3 separate regions of the Homo sapiens genome follow, and all the other regions are linked to region 1. Evidence: fine-mapped expression QTL. A gene starts in region 1. Each other region holds a variant in brackets. All regions are shown on one strand. Distances are from middle to middle. Region 1 holds the start of SLC9A8 (solute carrier family 9 member A8). Region 2 overlaps SCREEM1 (SNAI1 cis-regulatory eRNA expressed in monocytes 1). Region 3 has its middle 39 kb from the start of ARFGEF2.

Evidence for each region. PIP is the estimated chance that this variant, and not a neighbour inherited with it, causes the effect.
Region 2: its variant is the best candidate, but not a certain one, in a credible set for the expression of SLC9A8 in whole blood (TOPMed, PIP 0.90).
Region 3: its variant is the best candidate, but not a certain one, in a credible set for the expression of SLC9A8 in Th17 cells (Schmiedel 2018, PIP 0.86).

What each region holds. Positions count from the first base shown.
Region 1 is chr20:49,810,842-49,815,080 of GRCh38, reverse strand. SLC9A8 (solute carrier family 9 member A8) reads right to left here and starts at 2,253. Exons shown (of 16, transcript NM_015266.3): 1 at 2,133-2,253; 2 at 1-73. The coding sequence starts at 2,158. RefSeq lists a silencer at 2,005-2,284 and an enhancer at 2,435-2,574.
Region 2 is chr20:50,025,404-50,029,642 of GRCh38, reverse strand. SCREEM1 (SNAI1 cis-regulatory eRNA expressed in monocytes 1) reads left to right here. Exons shown (of 3, transcript XR_936829.1): 3 at 202-552. Among named protein-coding and RNA genes, the nearest start is that of SCREEM1, 3.0 kb to the left of the region's middle. RefSeq lists enhancers at 628-1,465, 1,466-2,305. The variant G/A (reference allele first, on the strand shown) is at 1,794.
Region 3 is chr20:48,881,027-48,885,265 of GRCh38, reverse strand. It overlaps a transcript of PREX1 not described here. Among named protein-coding and RNA genes, the nearest start is that of ARFGEF2, 39 kb to the left of the region's middle. The variant A/G (reference allele first, on the strand shown) is at 2,448.

The sequences.
Region 1 (4,239 bases):
CAGTTTCGTCGTGACAACCAGGGTGGTGTGGAGGGTGACATTGAAACCCTCATGAGTTGTATTGGGGAACCTCCTGGAGGACATAGAAAGCATAATTAGATAATGGAAAAGGGTCCCAAAACATCAATTCACACACCTCACACCAGAAAGAGAAGCTGTCCAAGAACTTTATGGGATTCAGAAGTCTTTAACAGGCAGGCCTTCGAGAGAAACTTACTAAGAAAATCCCTGCCTGCACAGCACAAGGGTACCAGTGGCCTCTGGTGCTTTTGAATACAGCCACTTAGAGGACAAGAACGGTAGGGAATCAGAGCTAGTATAGAAATGAAATGCTGCCTGCTCTTTGGCAAATACTGGGGGATTTAAAGGGAGGCAAACTGGAGTCTCATCACTTTCCAAGGTCCAACACTGTTTACTTAGCACCTTTGTTTCTCCAATTTACATTATTTTCCTGGCATTATTTCTGCAAGTTGAAGAAGCCACCTCAATTTGCCCAGTTGTTGATCTGGGCATGCCCTACCCTACTTTACAAAATCCCTCTCAGATTTCAAACGGCTCAAATGTCACCTCCTATTACCCCATCTTACCACACCCGAATTTACCCACTCCACTGCGTATGTTCCCACAGCTCTTTCACACTGTGCTGGGATTGTGAACTAGTACAATATTGCTATAATAACTGTTACTGTGACTACAAAAGTTATTATTTTCTGAGCACTGCTTTATTCCAGGAACTAGGTAACACACTACCTCTCATTTAATAGGTATAACATGTCTGATTGGGTATGATTACTTTCCGTTTTTTACTCATGCATAACTAAGGCTCAGGGAGGTTGCAAAACTTCACCAACATCTCAGTTAGTGGCAGAATCAAGCTGAAAACCCAAACTTGAAATCGCTGGGCTATATTGCCTCTTTTATTTTGTGCTGCTGAGGCTGTTTAGTGTCTGGGATGGAGCAGCTGCTCAATAAATAACTGATTACATGAAATGACCCCCACATGGCCAAGAAATATATTTGAAAAGTTATCAGGTGAAGGACTCCAGTATCAATGAAGGGGTTCCTTATTCATCTTCACATACTCATTCCACAAACAGTGATAGGGCATCTACAATCTGCAACAGACTCTGCCCTGCAGGTATGGAGATGACTTTTGGACTTGCCCAAAAGTACCTGGAGGACACAGCCCGTCCTTCCCCATCTCCCCTTGTCCAGCTAACCCCCTTCCTCTCTACACACCAGCCATGCTGCCTGTCACTCAAAAGCACTAAACTCTTTCTTGAGCCAGGCCTTTTGAACCTGATGTTATTTCTCCTATCCCTCATTCTGGTCATTCAAGTTTCTGCTGAATGTCACTTTTTCCTGAGTGGACTCCCCAACCTTAACTCTATTTTGCTTCCTTCAGAACACTTAACCCATTCATGCCAGAGGTTGCAATTTTTAGAACTGCAGACGTGAGAAAAATCAGACCTTGGCGATGACCTTGAGCAGTAGGATATAAATAACTCCCACATGCTTAGCGTTCCAATAATGGAACACTAGGCACAAATAACGTTAATTAATCACGATCTGAAACCACCTTGACTAATTATGGTCTTCTTTTCCCACTAGAATGGAAGCTCCCAGAGAGCGGCTCCTGGTCGGCCTCCTTTCCTACCACCTGCCCAGGGCCTGGAATTGAGTAGATGGCTAACAGTTAATGACTAAATGAAACTTAGTGAAGGAGAAAGACATGAAAACTGATCGTTATACAGGAGGCGACTGGCTACGTAGGAGGTGGGTGTGGAGAACCCGGACGACTTCCTGGAGGAGGCGGAAGAGGGCTCAGTAACCATGAGATTACCGAAAACTGGGAAAGTAAATATGGTTTGTATTTTCCGCAAGACAGCTCTCCGGGCCTGCGCTGGGCAGTAGATTCCCAGCTCGAGGGACCGATCTCCAGGGGAAAGCAAGGCCCACCTGGGCCCAGGCCCGCCCATCCCGCCCTCCTCGTAGGCACCGGCTTGGTCAGTCCTGGCCAACCAGCAAAAGAAGCTCCGCCTTCCGGGGCCGGAGGGCGGCCTGAGGCGCTCGCTGTCACCCGCCGGGGCCCAGCCCCGCCGCCTCCGCCGCCCGGGAAAAAGCCCACTCACTCCTCTTCCGCCATCTTCTCCCCCATCCTGCGGAGCTTCCAGGACCACCGAGTTCGGAGCCGCGGGGCTAGCAGGACCCGCTTTTGCTTCCGGCTTCCGCTGGAGGCGCGGGCGGGCGAGCGGGAGGCGGGGCCTCGGCCGCGCGAGGGCGGCCCTCTGTCCCTCCGTCTCAGTGGCCCGAGGGTGGGAGAAAGCGCGTGGGAGGATTGCTTCTTAGTCTCTCCCGGGGCTTTCGGGACGCTTGTCCGGCCTGGGCCACATGACCACCTGGGACCGAGAGATTCCGGCTTTTCCCCATCACAGGGCGGGGACGTTTTGGGGAAACTCCTCTGAGGTCACTGTGACTCACCCTGAGGGCAAGCAAGCACCCTCCACCCAGTGCCCTCGACTTCGCTGTGCTAAAAGAGTTTGAAAAAGGATGCCCAGCCTGCAGCCTAAGCGGAGAGACCCCAGGGGGACACTTCCCCACCCGAGCCTTAGTTTCCTTCGGCTGTGGAGAGGAATAACCGCCTGGACTTGGCAGGACTGTGCAGCATTCCATCTGTAAACATGTGTTGAGTTCAGACTATATGCCTAGCGTTAAAAAGGATGCTGATGATCTAGGGGTGGACCATTCATTAAGGGGTTCATTGATTCACCACATGCTTAGTAGATGCTTCTATGTGCCTAGCAGTGACCGGTGGGGTGGGGATGCAGGGAGGAACAAGGTGAGGTGAGAGGGGTAGGTGAGACCCCCATCGGGAGGACTGGGGCTGAGGACTTTGAACTTTATTGGCCGCTTCTGTTGCTACCTCCCTTCCTGATCCAAGGCACTCTATCTCATCTGGATAATTGCAACGGCTCCATTCAGGGTCTCTGACTCACCCCTGTTCCTTACGGACTTCCACACAGCAGCTTAACTCATCACTCCTCTGCTTAGACCCTCCAATGGCTTCCAATCTCCAGAGAAAAAAAAAACGTGGGGAATGTACAGGACTCAATCCTGCCCCCTTTTCCCCTCTGAAGTGTGTGGGAGGGGGGCATGGGGCTCTATATCTCCCCTCCCACACACTTTGACTTTCCACTATTGTCCCAGACTCACCAGGAATACTTCCACCGTTGCACTTACTGAGCCTTTATCTAGAATGCTCTTCTTCTGGGTAGCTCTTTGGCTCCCACCTCTCCTACGTTTGGCCTTTTATTTAACCCTTATCTTGTGTGTTAGACCTCCTTGACCACCCTACTTAAAATCCAAGGCCCCCCGCCTTCCCTAAACTATTTTTCCACATGACACCTAACCTACCATATGTTTTACTCATACACTTGTTTGTTAACCATCTCCCTCCATGAGAACGGAAGCTTCATGAATGCAGAAATTTTTGTCTGTTTTGTTCTCCATTTTATCTGCAATGCCTACAACAGTACCTGGCACATAGTAGACACTCAATAATAAATAATCATTGAGTAAATAAATCAGTTAATTCTAGCACACCTAGAAGGGTTTTGAACTGAGAAGTAACCTAAGCTTTGCTGCCTGTTGGGAGTTGACTGGGGATTGGCGAGAGAGAGAGGATGGAAGCCCCAAAGCCAGCAAGGAGGCTTTTGCAATAATCTAGGTGACAGCTGATGGCAGTCTGGATGAAAGTAATACGGTGGAGGTGGCAGGAATGGTTGGACTCCTGGACGCATACTGAAGACAAGGTTTGCTGACGGACTATGGCGTATAAAAGAGGAGTTAAGCATGGTGTCAGGGTTTTGGCCCCGAGGAACTGGGTAGAGAAGAAATCTGGCTCTAACCTTGGGTTCTCCATCCTCTGCAGTCTCTTAAGACTGCTAAAGCTGACTGAGAGAATGTCATCAGGATCCACCAATGTTTATTGAGTAATAATAAACTTGCTTCCTTCCTGCAGGTGTGGTGTTGGGCTATTGTTTCCTTAATTCTTTACATAGCTTTGAGGTAGATACCATCATTATCCACAGACATAGAGAAATCAAGGCACTTGCCTGCGGTCCCACAGCTAGCAAATGACAAGGCTGGGATTCAGGCACAGAGCCAGTGTTTTTAAACCAGTAGCCCTGCTACTCTCCACTGCCTTAATTTCTCTGGCTCTTAAATGGGACTAATAAC
Region 2 (4,239 bases), 210 kb before region 1:
GGGCTCAAGGCAAAAGCCACATCCTCCTCATTGCCTGCCCCACCTGCCCGCCCCGTCCCCTTGCTGGCCTCACCTCCTGGCCTCGCCCACTCTGCTCCCACCCGACTGGCCTCCTGCCTGCTCCTTGACTCTGCCCACCACACCCCTGCCTCAGGGCCTTCACACTGGCTGTTCCCTCTGCCTGGAACTCTCTCTCCGCAGACACCCACATGGCTTCCTTCGATTCGTCCTGCAGATCTCCCTGGCATCACTTTCTGAGACACCGTACTCAACCCCCTCCAACAGGGAAAGCCCCCGCGCTATGTCCTGACTCCCCCAGCTGCGCCTGGCTCCCCCACCTGTGCCTGGCTCCTCCAGAGACACCTGTTCCAGCCCAGTGTGCGGTGTGCTCATTGTGCCATCTCCTTGGGTGGAGTGATGGCTCCATGAGGGCAGGCAGGTTGTCTACTCTGTTCACTGTTTAAAGCAGGGCCCTGCCCGAAGGAGGTGCGCAATACCTTCCGGGCAAATAAATGAATGAATGGATGAACTAAAGGAATTGGGAGGGGGAGTAGGAAGAGCACACTTAAAGCTCAGGCAGGTGCCGGGCGTGGTGGCTCACGCCTGTAATCCCAGCATTTTGGGAGGCTGAGGCGGGCGGATCACGAGGTCAGGAGATGGAGACCATCCTGGCTAACACAGTGAAACCCCGTCTCTACTAAAAAAATACAAAAAATTAGCCGGGCATGGTGGCGGGTGCCTATAGTCCCAGCTACTTGGGAGGCTGAGACAGGAGAATGGTGTGAACCCGGGTGGTGAACCTGGGAGGCGGAGCTTGTAGTGAGCCGAGATTGCACCACTGCACTCTGGCCTGGGCGACAAAGCGAGACTCTGTCTCAAGAAAAAGAAAGCTCAGGCAGGCCCCAGTGTGGTGGCTCAGGCTTGCAATCGCAGCACTTTGGGAGGCCAAGGCTGGTGGATCACTTGAGCTCAGGAGTTCGAGACCAGCCTGGGCAACACAGCAAAACCCCATCTCTACAGAAAAATACAAAAATTAGCAGGGCATGATGGTGCACGCCTGCGGTCCCAGCTACTCGAGGGGCTGACGTGGGAGGATCACCAGAGCCCGGGGAGGTTGGGGCTGCAGTGAGCCATGATGGCACCACTGCACTCCAGCCTGGACAGCTTCACTGAAGAGGTGACATTTAAGCTGAAGCCTGAGATTTGAGAAAGAACCTTGAAGTGTTCCAGGCAGAAAACACAGCCAGTGCAAAGGCCCTGAGGCTGGAACCTGGTCAACACACTCAAGAAAGAGAAGGAAAGCTGTGAAGCTGAGTGCAGTGTGTGTGTGTGTGTGTGTGTGTGTGTGTGTGTGTGTGTGTGTGTATGTGTTGGTGGCGAGGGAGGGAGGAGTTTGCAGCCTATAATGCAGGGAAGTGCAAGGACCCCACTCTGACACCCCAGAATCTCCTTGCCCCCCTGGCAGGTGGCTTTCTGTCTGTCCCACCCAACAATGGTTACAACTGGTGTCTCACTCTCCACTCCCTCCCTCCCCCAGATTATCCCCTTCCCCTCCCTCCGCCCCGCTCCCCCTTTTCCCGCCTGGCCTGGCAGAGCCGGGAAACAGTGACTCAGGAGTCTGGCCGACTCAGGCCTCCCTCCCCTTCGTGTCAGGCTGCTGGGCTGGAGCCAGCTTTGGCCTGACATCCAGCCTCAGGCCTGACATCCAGCTGGGCTCCGGCCAGGGGTGCCCTCTCCTCAGCATGGCAGACACTCCACGTGGCTTCTTACTGGAGGCAGGAATAAGAGTAACA[G/A]CCCAGGTCATGTAAATATAACCTTCCCCACCACGTGTCGTGGCTATCCCCATTTTCCAGGGGAGGAAACTGAGGCTGGGTGAGGCTGTGACACTTGTTACACACCCTGGGGATGTGGTGCCGACAGTGGCGGTGCCCAGTTGGCAAGTGCAGGGCAGGGGGCTGGTTGGGGCTGAGGCTTCACCAGTGTAGACAGGCTGCAGACTTCCCCAGGTACCTCCCAGGCAGGAGGGACCCAGGGCTGCAGGCCTGGCCTTGGATCCTAACACTCCCGCAACGCCAGAGCTGGGGTCTCCCTTTCTCACTAACCCCACCCCACATACACTCACCAAGAAAGAAACAGGCCAAGAGTCAGGGAAGGAAAATACCCAGCAAAGGAGACAGGGGACACTTCCTGGGGGGTCCTGGGCCCTCTCCCCATTTCCTCCATCAGTGACTCCCACCATCAGCCAGTGACCTCAGTTGAACAAGTTACTTCATTGTGCAGAACACTAAACCACATTTTTCCAGACTTCCCTGAGAAAGACACACGTGGTTCAGAGTTTGGGCTCCAGTCAGATCCTGACTGTCTGGGTTCAAGCCCCATCTCAGCCGCTTCTTAGCTGTTCAACTCTGGGCAACCGTCTCCACCTCTCTGGGCCTCAGTTTCCCATCTGAACAACGGAACTTCTAACAGTACAGCCTCCCAGGGTTGTTTTGTGCCTTGGCACACAGCAAGTGCTCAAAGAATGTCCCCATTGTTCTCCACAAGCCCTGATCTGTGCAAAACCTCAGCAGAGAGGCTCAGGGACCCCCCACCCTGTGTCCATGTTGAAAACTCGCCTGTGGAATTCTCGGTCACCCCATTCCTTCTGACAGAGTTACAAATTCAGATTAGATTTTTATTCTCTGACATCCACTTAACAGGCCACAGTTATTATTGTTTCTGGCCTAAAATACAATGTGTTTCTGGTGAATTAATGGGTCCAGGCTACTCTCACTCCTGAGGAGATAAGGTCCCAGCATTTCTGGAAAACTATGTGCTGTTTTCTGATCTGGAACATTCAGTTGTAGCATGGACATGGGACTTTTGAAGTAGACACTACTTCTACTTCTGGGCCACCCAACATTTCCAACCCTGGGGAGAAGATTCTGGGGGTCCCTGACTCCCTTTTGCCCCAGAGCTGCACCCGAAACAAGAGCATGGGATTCTGGGGCTGGGGGGACCCTTGTGTAGAAAAGGATAATAACAACATTGATAACCATAGCAGCAGGCCAGCCTTATTAAATTTTTTTTTTTTTTTTTTTTTTTTGAGGTAGAGTCTTGCTCTGCCTCTCCGGCTGGAGTGCAGCGGCTATGATCTTGGCTCACTGCAACCTCCGCCTCCAGGTTCAAGTGATTCTCCTGTCTCAGCCTCCCAAGTAGCTGGGATTACAGGTACCTGCCACCATGCCCAGCTAATTTTTGTATTTTTAGTAGAGACAGAGTTTCATCATGTTGGCCAGGCTCGCCTTGAACTCCTGACCTCAAGTGATCCATCCGCCTCGGCCTCCCAAAGTGCTGGGATTACAGGCATGAGCCACCACGCCTGGCCTTATTTCATTCTTATCCTCACCATTTGAGGGAGTTTTTCTCCTTAGCACCATTCACTGGGGAAACTGAGGCACAGAGAGGTGAACCAGCTTGCCCAACCTCACTCAGCCAGGACGGAGCAGGAGGGGGTGGGAATCCATGCAAGTTTGATAGAGAAACACTGACTTTTACCTCTTTCCTCACCTTTTCCACAGATGGCAACTCAAGAGGCTAAGTGTGGACCGAAGTCACCCTTGTTACTGCTCTCATAATCTCTCTTTTTTCTCACACTCTTCCTTCTCAGCTTTAGGTTCAAGTTGGTTTGGAATCCAACAGGCCTGACATCATCATTTCTCACCAGTGTAACCTTGGCTCATGAATTCTGCTTTCTGAGCCTCAGTTTCCTCATCTGCAGAATGGGGGCAGCACAGAGCCTCCCTCATTGCCTTGTTGTGAGCGTTCCCCAGGATCATGAGTGCTTTAAAAGGTGCTTAGGTCAGCTGAGCACAATGGTTCACACCTGCAATCCCAACACTTTGAAGGCTGAGACGGAAGGAAGATCGCTTGAGCCCAGGCGTTCAAGACCAGCCTGAGCAACATAGTGAGATCCCATCTCTATTTATATATTTGAAGTGCTTAGGTGGTAGTTCCTCAATAAATTAAACAGAATTACCATATGATCCAGTAATTCCACTCCTGGGTATATCTCCAAAGAACTGAAGATAGATATTCAAACAAAAACTTATACACAGGCCGGGCACAGTGGGTCACGCCTGTAATCCTGGCACTTTGGGAGGCCGAGGCAGGTGGATCAACTTGAGGTCAGGAGTTTGAGACCAGCCTGGCCAACATCGTGAAGCCCCGTCTCTATTAAAAATACAAAAATTATTTTTT
Region 3 (4,239 bases), 930 kb after region 1:
TAGGTGCTGGACCTACGACAGTGAAACAGGACAATGTTTGTACCAGGGCTGTATCTGTTATATCCAAATGACCTATAGTGATGATGATGATAGTGGCTAGTATTAGACTCCTTATTATGCTCTTCTTTATATGCGTTAACTCATTTACTCCTCAAACATCCCTAAAAGTGGTACTACTATATTTATCCCCATTTTATAGATGAGATAACAAAAGCAGAGAGAGGTTGAGTAATTTGCCTGAGGTCACACAGCTAGGTATAATGGACCTGGGGGTCCAACACAGGTGGTCAGGCTCTTTCATGCATGGACATTATCCAGATTTAAAACCCAGGATTTAGGCCAGGTGTAGTGGTCTTGAACCCCTGATCTCAAATGATCCATCCACCTCTGCCTCCCAAAGTGCTAGGATTACAGGCATGAGCCACCGTGCCCTGCCGGTTTATTTGTCTTTTTACTATTGGGTTGTATTCTTTAGATATTCTGGATATAAGCCCTTTATCACATATGATTTGCAAATATTTCCTCCCATTCAGTTGCTTGTCTTTTAACTTTCTTGATAGTGTCCTTTGAAACACAAGTGTTTAATTCTGATGAAGTCCAATGTATCTATTGTTTTTCTTTAGTCATTTATATTTTTTGACATCATATGTAACAAGGCCTTGCTTTACCCAAAGTCACAAATATTTATTCCAATGTTTTCTTCTAAGAAGTTTATAGTTTTAGTTCTTATCCTTAGGTCTGTGATCCACTTTTAGTTATTGTTTGCATATGATGTGATGAAGGAGTCCAAACTCATTGTTTTCACGTGACCACTTATTGAAAAGATTATATTGTCACATCAAACTATTTTGGTTCCATTGTAATAAGTCAACTGACTATAAATGTAAGGGTTTATTTCTGTCCTCTTAATCTGTTCCATTGACTTATCTGTCTATCCTTATGCCAACGCCACACTGTCTTGATTATTGTGACCTTATAGTAAGTTTTAAAATCAGGAATTGTGAGTTTTCCAATTTTGTTATTTGTCAAAGTTGTCTTGGCTGTTCTGGGTTGCTTATATTTCCACATGAATTTTAGGGTCAGCCAACTAAAAAGAAACCAGCTGGGATTTTTTTTTTTTTTTTTTTTAGACGGAGTTTTGCTCTGTCGTCCAGGCTGGAGTGCAGTGGTGATCTCGGCTCACTGCAAGCTCCGCCTCCTGAGTTCACGGCCGTTCTCCTGCCTCAGCCTCCCGAGTAGCTGAGACTACAGGCGTCCACCACCACGCCTGGCTAGTTTTTTGTATTTTTAGTAGAGACGGGGTTTCACCGTGTTAGCCAGGATGGTCTGGATCTGCTGACCTCGTGATCTGCCCACCTCAGCCCCCCAAAGTGCTGGGATTACAGGCCTGAGCCACTGCGCCCGGCCCCAGCTGGGAGTTTTATAGGAATTGCTTTAAACCTGTAGATTAGTTTGGGGAGTATTGCTACATTGATAATATTAAGTCTATCAGTCCATGAAAATGCAATGACTTTCCTTTTATTTCGGTCTTCTTTAATATTTCAACAGTGTTTTCAAGTCTTCACAGCATAAGTTTTGTACTTCTGTAAATTTATTCCTAAGTATTTTATCCTTTTTGATGCTATTGTAAAATGAATTGTTTGCTTAATTTTATTTTCTGATTTTTCATTGACACTTCATAGAGATAAATTTTTGTATGTTGATCTTATATCCCACAGCTTTGCTAAGCTTGTTTATTAATTCTAACAATTTTTAGTGGATTCCATGCCATTTATAATATACAGGATCAAGACATCTGAAAGTAGAATAAAATTTTATGTCTTCCTTTCTAAACTGGATGCCTTTTCCCCCTTATGTAATTGCCCTGGCTAGAATGTCCAGTACAATAATTAATAGATGCAATGAGAGCAGACATCTTGTCTTGTTGCTAATTTTAGGGGGAAAGCATTCATTCACCATCAAGTATGATGTTAGCTGTGGGATTTTTTACAATGCCCTTTCTATTTGTGGTTTTGATCATGAAAAGACAATGGGCCAGGCACGGTGTCTCATGCCTGTAATCCCAGCACTTTGGGAGGCCAAGGTGGACAGATACCTGAGGTCAGGAGTTTAAGACCAGTCTGGCCAACATGGTGAAACCCCGTCTCTACTAAAAAAATACAAAAAGTAGCTGGGCGTGGTGGCATGTGCCTGTAATTCCAGCTGCCTGGAGGCTGAGGCAAGAGAGTCGCTTGAACCCGGGAGGCTGAGAGGTCGCAGTGGGCCAAGATTGCATCACTGCGCTTCAGCCTGGGTGACAGAGCAAGACTTCATCTAAAAAAAAAAAAAAAAAAAGGACAACCCAACTGAAGGATGGACAAAGAATTTGAATAGACACTCCTTTAAAGAAGATATACAAATGACCAATAAGCTTATGAAAAGATGATTAAATTTATTATCACTGGGAA[A/G]ATGCAAATTAAAGCCACAATGAAATACCAGTCCACACCCACTAGTGAGGATAAAATAAAAGACAGATAATAACAAGTGTCAGTGAGGCTGTGGAGAAGTTGCAGTCCTTATATATTGCTGGCAAAAATGTAAGATACCACAGCCACTTTGGAAAACAGTTTGGCAGTTCCTCAAAATATTAAGCATAGAATTGCCATTTAACCCAGCAATTCTACTCCTAGGTATATATACCCCAGAGACACAAAAATATACATACACATAGAAACTTCATAGAAACATGAAGATTCTCTCTTTTTTTTTTTTTTTTTTTTTTTTTGAGACGGAGTCTCACTGTGTTGCCCAGGCTTGAGTGCAGTGGCGCGATCTCGGCTCATTGCAAGCTCCACCTCCTGGGTTCACGCCATTCTCCTGCCTCAACCTCCCGAGTAGCTGGGACTACAGGCGCCCGCCACCACACCCGGCTAATTTTTTGTATTTTTAGTAGAGACGGGGTTTCACCGTGTTAGCCAGGATGGTCTTGATCTCCTGACCTCGTGATCCGCCTGCCTCCGCCTCCCAAAGTGCTGGGATTACAGGCGTGAGCCACCGCGCCCAGCAACATGAAGATTCTTAACAACATAATTCATAATACCCCAAACCTGGAAGCAATGCAAATGTCCATCAATTGATGGTTGTCTAAACAAAATGTATATCAAAATAATGGAATATTCTTTAGCTGTAAAAAGTTATAAAGAACTGATACATGCTGTAGCATGGATGAAGCTTGAAGACATCATGTTAAGTGGAAGAAGCTCGTCATAAAAAACATATTGTATGATGATCTGTATGATATATACAGAATAGGGGAGTGCATAGAGACAGAAAGTAGATTAGTAGTTGTCTAGGGCTGGGGGTGGGGGTGGGGAAAGGAGCATGGGTAGAGATGGGGATGGGGTTTCTTTTGAGAGTGATGAAAACATTCCGAAATTAGATTGTAGTGATGGTTGCACAACTACAAGAAACCATTGAATTGCACACTTAAAGATGAATTGTAGGCCAGGTGCTGTGGCTTACGCCTGTAATCCCAGCACTTTGGGAGGGCAAGGTGGGCAGATCATAAAGTCAGGCGTTTGAGACCAGCCCGGCCAATAGGGTGAAACCCCGTCTCTACTAAAAGTACAAAAATTAGCTGGGCGTCGTGGCAGGTGCCTGTAGACCCAGCTACTCAGGAGGCTGAGGCAGGAGAATCCCTTGAACCCGGAAGGCAGAGGTTGTAGTGAGCTGAGATCGTACCATTGCACTCCAGCCTGGGTGACAGAGTGAGACCCTGTCTCAAAAAAAAAAAAAAAATGAATTGTATGTAAATTCTATCTCAATAAAACTGTTAAAAATAAGTTAATAAATAAGGACAGTAGATACAAAGGCCAAAAATATGAGGGAGGAGTTATGATAAAAACCACCTGTCAATTGAACTTAAAAGCAAGTTTATTAAAAGGAGCATTTTAAAAAGCAATTGTTGGAAAGGATTTATTGCTGGGTTTAAATTCTTTTTTTATTATGGAAAAATGTTAAATGTACACCACAGTAAAGGGAAACATATAACAAAGCAGTCTCCATCACCCAGTCCAACAATTATCAACTCATGGCCCATCTGGTTTTCGCTATACTCCTACCCACTCCCCCACGCTGAATATTTGAAGCAAGTCCCAGAATCATGTTGTTTCATTATTGCAGAAATATTGTGAGGATATCGTCCACATGTCCCATGTCTTCCTCACAAAGACCTGTGGGTAGAGTTGCTTTTTAATCTCT